Regions from separate parts of the Homo sapiens genome. Here region 2 is reported to be linked to region 1. Evidence: microRNA targets listed by miRTarBase, many of them from high-throughput screens and not tested one by one. Region 1 holds a microRNA gene; the other region holds the end of a gene's coding sequence.

Region 1 (4,150 bases):
TACAGAAGCCCGAAGCCTTCTACATCACAGTTTGGCTTAGACATGGTTCAATCCTAAACCGTTCTCATAAATATGAGAGGTAAACAGAAGCCAATAAGTCCTCCCGAAAACTACATCTGAAGCTAATCCACTCCGAGATTTAAAAATACCCAGGAACCACTATCTCTGTGAGATTTCATTTTATTTCAAGGATCCTGTAGCTCTTTGAATCCAAACTCATGTTTGGAGTCTGAGGGTTTCTTAGCCCTCGTCTGGTCACCCTGCTCATTTGCAGAGGAAAATACTGGGCCCAGTGTGGGGACAGAATGGCCAGAGGTCCCAAAGCAGGGCTGGAGATCACACCTGGGCCTGGCCAAGCCCCTCACCTGCCAGGTTTGCCCCTCTCTACCTGTCCACTGCCTAAGTGCTCCGTGCATAGCAGGTACTCGGTATGTTTGTGTCAAATGAATAAAAACAACAGATCAAGTGATCTGAGGACTTAACCAAAGATATTCTACTAAAGGGTATCAGACCAAATGACTTACTAATAGCAAATGAACAAAGAAGAGGAGTTAGCATGTTCTCTCCTGAAAAATTCTTCTCAAAGTGCCAATGCTTCCTCAAAGTGGTTTAATTACCTTAGCCAAAGTAGTTAAATCAAAAAGAAAAATTAATATGATATGCTGTCGTGGTGCTGTGATGTGCCTTAAATGAACTCTCCAAGACCCAGTAAACATGAGCCTTCATTACTGTCTCTCTCTATTACTTACCACCAGCCAGGAGGTAGGTCGTATCACACCCATTTTACAGACAAGGAAGCTGAGGCTCAAAGAAGTTAAGGACTGACCCAGCGACATAGCTAGTGAATGTCAGAGTTGGGATTCAAACCCACAAACCAGCATGCTTTCCCCCACTCCTGGGAAATGGGACATGTCACAGCTTACAGATGTTTGGGACTGATAGAGACCAAGCAAATAGGCAGTCCCAAATGTTGACCCGATATCCTCCCACCAATCAGGCCTTCAGGAGCTTTACAAAACATTCAGCACGCTTGTATTCACAACTGACTTTTCAGGAGCCTCGAAACAGTGAGGTGAAAATAGGGTTCAGCCTAACCTGTCATTCATGCCATTATCAAACTTAAGTTTTCCAACTTCCCATTCCTTCCCTCACCCAGTCCCTCCCACAGGGACAATTCAGAGCCATTAAAACCATTCCCAAATCTCTCTCTCCTTACTGGAGACCCTATAAGCAAATTCACTGAAGAATACTGAGGGATTTGGGGTTGATTTGATTTGAGAATAATCTGAACCTATATCATAGCCATTCCCGTGTTGGCCTCTCCTACTCCAGCTCCTCAAAGCAAGAGCCCCTCCCGACGCCCAGCCTGTAGAAGGTGGTTGTAGAACTAAAGTGAATTAAACTTGGCATATGAAGGTCAAGGGAGTAAATCTAAGAATTACGTGAATGTGCTTGGTATAGCTTGGGAAAAGATGCAGCTTCATCCAAGAGCCGTGAGATTTACTGACATGGAAGCCTTCCAGTGGGGACTCTAATACTCAGCTTTGAAGAATATAGTGTATACATTAAAATATTTACCGGCCAGGAGAAGAACTGGGTCACCAAATGGAGTCCCCCAAACCAATGGCCCCAGCAGCCAACCCATTCCCTCTTTTAGAGAATTCTGGCCCATCTGCAGAAACATGCCCAGACAGCATGCCTACTTCCGAAAGTATAAGATCCCTGTCCAAGTACAAATCAGTTGTCAACCTGACAGGTTAGTGCACCATCAGGCACATCTAAGACAAAAAGGGCCCTTTAGAGACCACCTAGTCCAATGACTTTCACAGAAGGAAAGAGAATGAATCTACGTGGTTAGGGAAAGTATCCTCAAAACTGATTCTGACTGAGCAAGAGAAATGGCAGGACGCAAAGTGCTATAATCTGGATGTTTGTGTCCCCACTAAAATTCATGTTAAAATATTAACCCCCAAGATAATCATTTTAGAGGGTGGGGACTTTGGAAGGTGATTTGGTCATGGGGGTAGAGCCCTCTTAAATGGAATTAGTGCCCTTATAAAAGACGTCCCAAAAAAGACCACTTACCCCCTCCACCATGTGAGGACATAGCAAGAAGGGACTGTCTATGAACCAGAAAGCAGGGCCTCACCAGACACCAAATCTGCCAATGCTTTGGTCTTGGACTTCCCAGCCTCCAGAACTGTGAGGAATAAATTTCTGTTGTGTATAAGCCACCCAGTTTATGGTATTTTGTTGTAGCACCCTGAACAGATTAAGACACAAACCTCAAACATAATCCTCCTGGCCAGTGGGGTATGCTGCCCACCCACTGAGAGCATGAGAGACGGGAAGGGAGAAGAGAGAAAGGGAGAGTAAGGGAGAGAAGGGGAAGGGAGGAGAGGAGATGGGAGGGGAGAGGAGGGGAGAAGAGGGGAGGGGAGGGGAGGAGGTGCCAGGTATTAAAAGATTAAACCACCTCATCCCTAACCCCATTTTGCAGGTAAAGAAATGGACGTGCAGGATAGAAGGTGATCTGTCCAAGGACACACTGCTGGCTATAGGCCGAGTTGCAGCTAAAATGAAGATCTCCTGATTCCTGGCCTCATCCCTTTCTCTTTTTGCATGTGATTTACATACAAATATATATAGAAAACCGAGACAAGTTTTATTTTAAAAGTACTATCCTTACTATGTGTGACAAACTAACATTTTCTATTGTTCTTTTATGAACTACTAGTCACAACTCATTAAATCCATTTTACAACACACCCGTGGGTCATGGTGCATGCTTTGAAAACGTCTGACTCAGATATCTGGAAAGAGTCAAGTCAAGGCCAGAAGTCCCACAGGTGTGCTTTCCAGCCCTGCTGTGGGACCTCTGGCCTTGACTTGACTCTTCCTTTAAGTTCAATTTGAGGGTGCTTATGAATGGAATATGTTAAACATTGATAAAGAGAACTCATGGCTTCCACAGCTAAAATTTCCCTCCCACAATGTTCACCATCACAGTGGATGCCACCATCATGCCCCTAGCTGTGACCAAACAGTGAGGAATTTTCTTAAATTCCCTTTTCTGTCTGCTATGCCCCACCCATCAGCATGTCTCTGTCCTCACCGCCCTGGTACAAGCCATCATCGCCTTCCCCTTGGGCTATGACAAAAACCTCTTAACTGGTATCCCTGCTGCCACCCTGGCCTCCCTACTCTATTCTCTACCAGCGGCCAGAATAATCTTCTAGAAACGTAAATCAGATCATAACAGCCTTCCTGCTCCAAAGACCTGCCACCATCTTAGAACAAAATCCAAAGTCTTTCCACGGCCCAGAGGCCCCCCATGATATAGCCCCGCCTGCCTCTGCCCCTCCTCCACCATACTGGTCATCTTGCTCTTTCTCCAAAAAACCAAGCATGAGCCTCAGGGCCTTTGCACTCACTGCTCTGTCAGCCTGGAGTCCCTCTCCCAACACCAACAACTGTTCTCTTCTTTACTCTGCCCTCTGACCGCATCATCAGGTCCCCAGAGAGAGCTTCCCTGGACACACTGTCTCCCATGGCCTCACTTCCTCTCTCTCCTGTTCCTCCCATTCTTTGCTATATTCTTTTTTTTTTTTAAGACAGGGTCTCGTTCTCTCACCCAGGCTGGAGTAAAGTGGTGCGATATTGGCTCACTGCAACCCCCACCTCCCATGTTCGAGCAATTCTTGTGCCTCAGCCTCCCAAGTAGCTGGGATTACAGGCGTGTGCCACCATGTCCAGCTAATTTTTGGCATTTTTAAGTACACAGGGTTTCACCATGTTGGCCAGGCTGGTCTTGAACTCCTGGCTTCAAGTGATCTGCCCGCCTCAGTCTCCCAAAGTGCTGGGATTACAGGCATGAGCCACTGCGCCCCGCCTGCCATATGCTTCTTCAAGGCATTGATTCTCTCCTGTCTTTTTATCTTAAATGCTTTATTGGCTGTTGTCTGTTGCCACCACGAGACCCTAAGTTTCATGAGCAAAAGGACTTGGACTGTCTTGTCTATCACAATATCCTCGGTTCCTAAAAGGGGCCTAAATTCAGGGCTGAATGAATAAATGAATGAATGGAAGTGCCTTTCCCAAAAGACAGGAAACTAAACCGTTTTGAAATACAGTCACCCCAGTCCAAGGT
Region 2 (4,000 bases), not on the chromosome of region 1:
CCCAGGGCTGAGGCTGATTGCACCACTTCCTTCCCTGCAGCTCCTAGAGATATGTGCCCCCCAAGTCCCACTTTCTCTGCTGCTCACTCACTCTTGTCTTGGTAGAGGCCTGCCCAGCACCTCCCTCAGGGCTAGGGTCTTTCCCTTCTGTGTACAGAAGACAAATGCTGGCTTTTCCAGGAGGCATGGGGAAGGGAGGGCTGAGAGCTTTGCTGGGGGAAGATGAGGGAAGTGGCAGCTGCGGTGAGGAGTACTGGCCCCTTCCCAGACACCACCTGTCCCCCCCTGCAGGAGACTACAACGAGGGGGGTGTGAGCAGCACTGGCGGGGATGGGGGGATTGGAGAGCTGCTCCCCCGGACCTCTAAAGTTCTGCTCCTAGCTTAGGTCCCAGGTCTTTGGGGACTCCTGAGTTTCCCCCACTCTAGAGAAGTGGGATGGGGACTGGGCTGAGACATCCAGAGCAGGGATCTTTCATCCCATTGTGGGCTCGTTTGCTCTCTGCTAGGGAGGCTGGAGGTTTTCTGAGGACAGATTGGCCATAGTCACCCTGGCTTCACTCCAAGAGGGGTTAACCCATGTGTGCGAGACAGAACTCGCAATAAAACTCAGGGTTCGGCCCCTGCTGGTGAGAGCCCAAGGGCAAGGTTGGGGGGCCTGTGGGGGGGTGGGGGAGGGCAGGTGGGAGGCTGTCCTCTGTGAGCTCCCCAGGATCATTTCCCAATAGTGCCAGAATTTGCATACTTACTGGTTTCCTCATCAGCTTCTGGCTCCTGGAACCAGGAAAACAAGAGGAGGAAAGAGCAACTGGGGCAGCTCCCCAGAATTTGATCTTTTCCAGCATGCAGGAGTCACATTCCATCCCTGTCCCCCTCTCAGAGGGAAGCTGCCTCTGAAGAGGCAGGAAGCTGAGGCTCTGAGAGGGAAGTGGGTTGCCCAGGGCTGCATCGCTAGTGATGGGGGCTTGAATCCAGGACCCCTCCCTCTCCTCCTTTCACAGGAACTGAGTTATTCTCTCAAATCTAGAAAGAGGCAAGGACCATTGTGTCCCTTTTACAGGTGGGGAGACTGAGGCCCTGTGAGCAAATACCACCTACCTAAGCTGCTTGAATGGGCAGTGGAGCAGGAGGTGATGGGGAGAACTTTGGAGTTAAAGCCCAATTCGTGGGAAAGAAACACAGCTGGGGCACTGGGCCTGGTAGCCTCGGAGTCACTCTGCCTGGCAGACTGAGAAAGAGGCCTGAAGGGGCATCTAAGCCTGCCTGGAAAGCACAGGATGCAAGCTCAGGCCAGCGGGGCATGGAACTGACCAGTCCTCCCTAGATCCCAGCCCCTCAGGCACCTGCCACATGAGCTCTGCCACCCTTGCCGGGGCTTATCAGTGAACCAGCAGGGCCAGACTTGGCCTCCAGACACGGCACAGCCAGTCAGGACCTGCTGCCCACTGCCCATCCCTCCCCACACACAGCAGAAGCAGCAAATGGCTTAGAGTTCAGCTCTGGTCAAGAAGCAAGTAAGCAAGTATGAACTCCCAAGGCTGTGGCCAGCTGGCAGCTGGGATGGGAAGAGGGGTGAGAACATTCCCTATTTTTTCCAGGCAGCCTCAAGGCTCCACTGTGGTGTGCAGAGACAGCGGGGGCTTGGCAGGTGGGGTTGCTGGGCATCTGCTGCTGACCAGGTGGGTAGGGTGGTCCTTTCAGCTGCCATGCTGGAGGGATTCCTTTTTTTTTTTTTTGAGACAGGGTCTCACTTTGTCACCCAGGCTGGAGCACAATGGTGCAATCATGGCTCACTGCAGTCTCCACCTCCTGAGGTTCAGGTGATCCTCCTACCGTAGCCCAAGTAGCTGGGACTACAGGTACAGGTGTATGCCACCACACCCAGCCAATTTTGTATTTTTTGTAGAGATAGGCTTTCCCTATGTTGGCCAGGCTGGTCTCGAACTCCTGAGCTCAAGCAATCTGCCCACCTTGGCCTTCCAAGTGTTGGGATTACAGGCGTGAGCCAGCATGCCTGGCCTGGAAGGATTCCTATGTGGATGTTGAAACCTAGGAGAGTTGTGAGGTGTGGGGCTGAGGGTACCTTCACCTCCCCCATCCCTGCAGGGCCCTGAGTTGCTGCAAACTAGTGTCCAGGCCCACCCCTCCTGCCCCCCTGGTTTGGGGACCAGAACCAGGACTCAAGGCCCTGCCCCAGTCTGTCCTTCCTCTGCGGGACCTTGGGCAAGTCATTCAGCATTGCCAAGTGGCTGATAATGAACTGGACAGTCTGGTATTTTAGCTTCCTGTCCCACAAAAACAAACAGAAGCCCAAGTATATTGTAAGTAAGATTTCTTTTTGCAGATAAAACTGGACTCCAAATCCTTTTACACTTTTGCTGCCTAACTGCCCCCTCCAGCCCCCTGCCCGCTCGTGCGTCCATGGGCACCTCCTAACAAGGCCCAGACCAAGGCCTCGGGAAAGATGCCCCATCCCCAAGGAGCTATGCATTCCTGGTGAATGTTTGTTAGAAATCTTCCTTCCAGAGAAGGGTCAGGGAGCTGGTGTGGAGGGGCTTCCTCCTGGGGTGAAGGAGGTCGGGGTGCATACCTGCTGGCCTTTCCTCACCCAGAGGCCAGCCCAAAGCCCTGAGCATAACAAAGACAATCACCTCTTGAAAGGGCTCACAATGATTGTACTTTATTGATGTGTTACAGGAGGTAAGGACTTTCTGCTTAAAATATTTAAAATTTACATGTGCACACAAACAAACACAGGTTCCCCCACCCATGGGGAAGGGCGAGATGACTCTGAATAAAGGATGGAGGAGAAGAAGAGGGTGTAGACGGAGGGCCCTTGACCCCTACAGGGGCAGCAGGATAAGGAATAGAGTGGGGCAGAAGGTGGGTTATTAAGAAGCATCTTGCTTACTGACATGAAGCCACGTGCCCAGCGAGAGCACAGATGAGGCCTCATTGGCGTAGAGGAGGCCCTTGGAGGGCAGGCACACGGTGCCCAACTAGCCAGCCAAGGCCAACGTCCCAGGGGTAGGGCGGAAGTGGGGTGGCGTGCACAGGGCACCCAGCCCAGGCCTCTGCTGCCCCCACCTCCCTCCCCACCCTCTGAGAGAAAAGACGGTTTGGGCCTCAGCCACGGACCGACGCCGTTACCGGCAGCGTCTCCTTAAACTACAGAGATACAATGTGTATCAACAGGGTGATCGCTTCTGACCCACTGAGGCAGACAGCTAGAGGTGCTGCATGGGCCAGAACCAATCCTACAGTATCTTTGGTTTGTGGGTTTCCTTCCCGACTTGAATCCTCCCTCTGTCCAGCCTCTGGGGTGGGCCTCAGGGCTGGGAATGGGCTGCTCAATGGCCCAAAGCCCAGCCTGACGGCCCTTGGAGGCTGGGGGTGCTGCCCTTGCCAGCCACAGGCAGCTTACTCACTGGGGTGCTGGGACTTGTAGGAGAGGATCTCGGCAGCCAGCTGCTGGGGGTCCAGGAGCTGTGGGAAGCGCCCCATCACAGCCTCCACCAGGTGCGGGGGAAACACACCACACAGCTTAGTATACACGCTGGCCTGCTCCTTGGCCAGGCTGCCTGCCCTGCCCCACGGGCTCCTGCCAGCCCCTGGGCTCTGCACTGGGGGCTCCTGAAGGACTGATGTGGGTGGGGGCAGTGGGTATGGTTCAGACCAGTACTCTCGAGGTGGAAAGGCAGGGGGCGCGGGTGGGTAGTCGGCAGGGACACTGAAGTGGCCAGCACCCATGGCCCGGCCAAAGGCAGAGAAGGCTGCGGTGGCTGGGAGCTCAGATCCATAGGGACTGTAGCCCGTGTAAGGGGCTCGGGGTGGGCCCGGCTCACCAGGGCCTCCTCCTCGAACCCCCCAAAGTTCCGACATCTGGCTCTCCAGGGAGCCAATGCCCGAGTCCAGGCAATCCTGGGAGACGTACGGGAGTGAGTCCAGCGTCTGTGGGAGCCAGTCTGTGGGCCCAAAGCTGCTGCCACTGCCCCCGCTAGG

Evidence for each region. The annotated mature microRNA hsa-miR-3922-5p reads UCAAGGCCAGAGGUCCCACAGCA and lies in region 1 at 2,866-2,888, opposite strand. An mRNA with a match to its seed (bases 2 to 7 or 8) in the 3' UTR can be bound and repressed. Matches are read on the target gene's strand: a 7mer-m8 pairs with bases 2 to 8, a 7mer-A1 pairs with bases 2 to 7 and ends in A, and an 8mer does both.
Region 2: miRTarBase lists ZC3H12A as a target of hsa-miR-3922-5p. Seed matches in the 3' UTR shown: 7mer-m8 at 3,007-3,013.

The regions. Positions count from the first base shown.
Region 1 is chr12:104,590,383-104,594,532 of GRCh38, reverse strand. It overlaps MIR3922 (microRNA 3922), which reads right to left and starts at 2,900; the gene lies at 2,817-2,900. All of the region lies in intron 1 of CHST11 (carbohydrate sulfotransferase 11), which reads right to left.
Region 2 is chr1:37,483,030-37,487,029 of GRCh38, reverse strand. It overlaps ZC3H12A (zinc finger CCCH-type containing 12A), which reads right to left. Exons shown (of 6, transcript NM_025079.3): 6 at 2,653-4,000. The coding sequence ends at 3,419. Among named protein-coding and RNA genes, the nearest start is that of MIR6732, 4.8 kb to the right of the region's middle. RefSeq lists an enhancer at 2,563-2,692.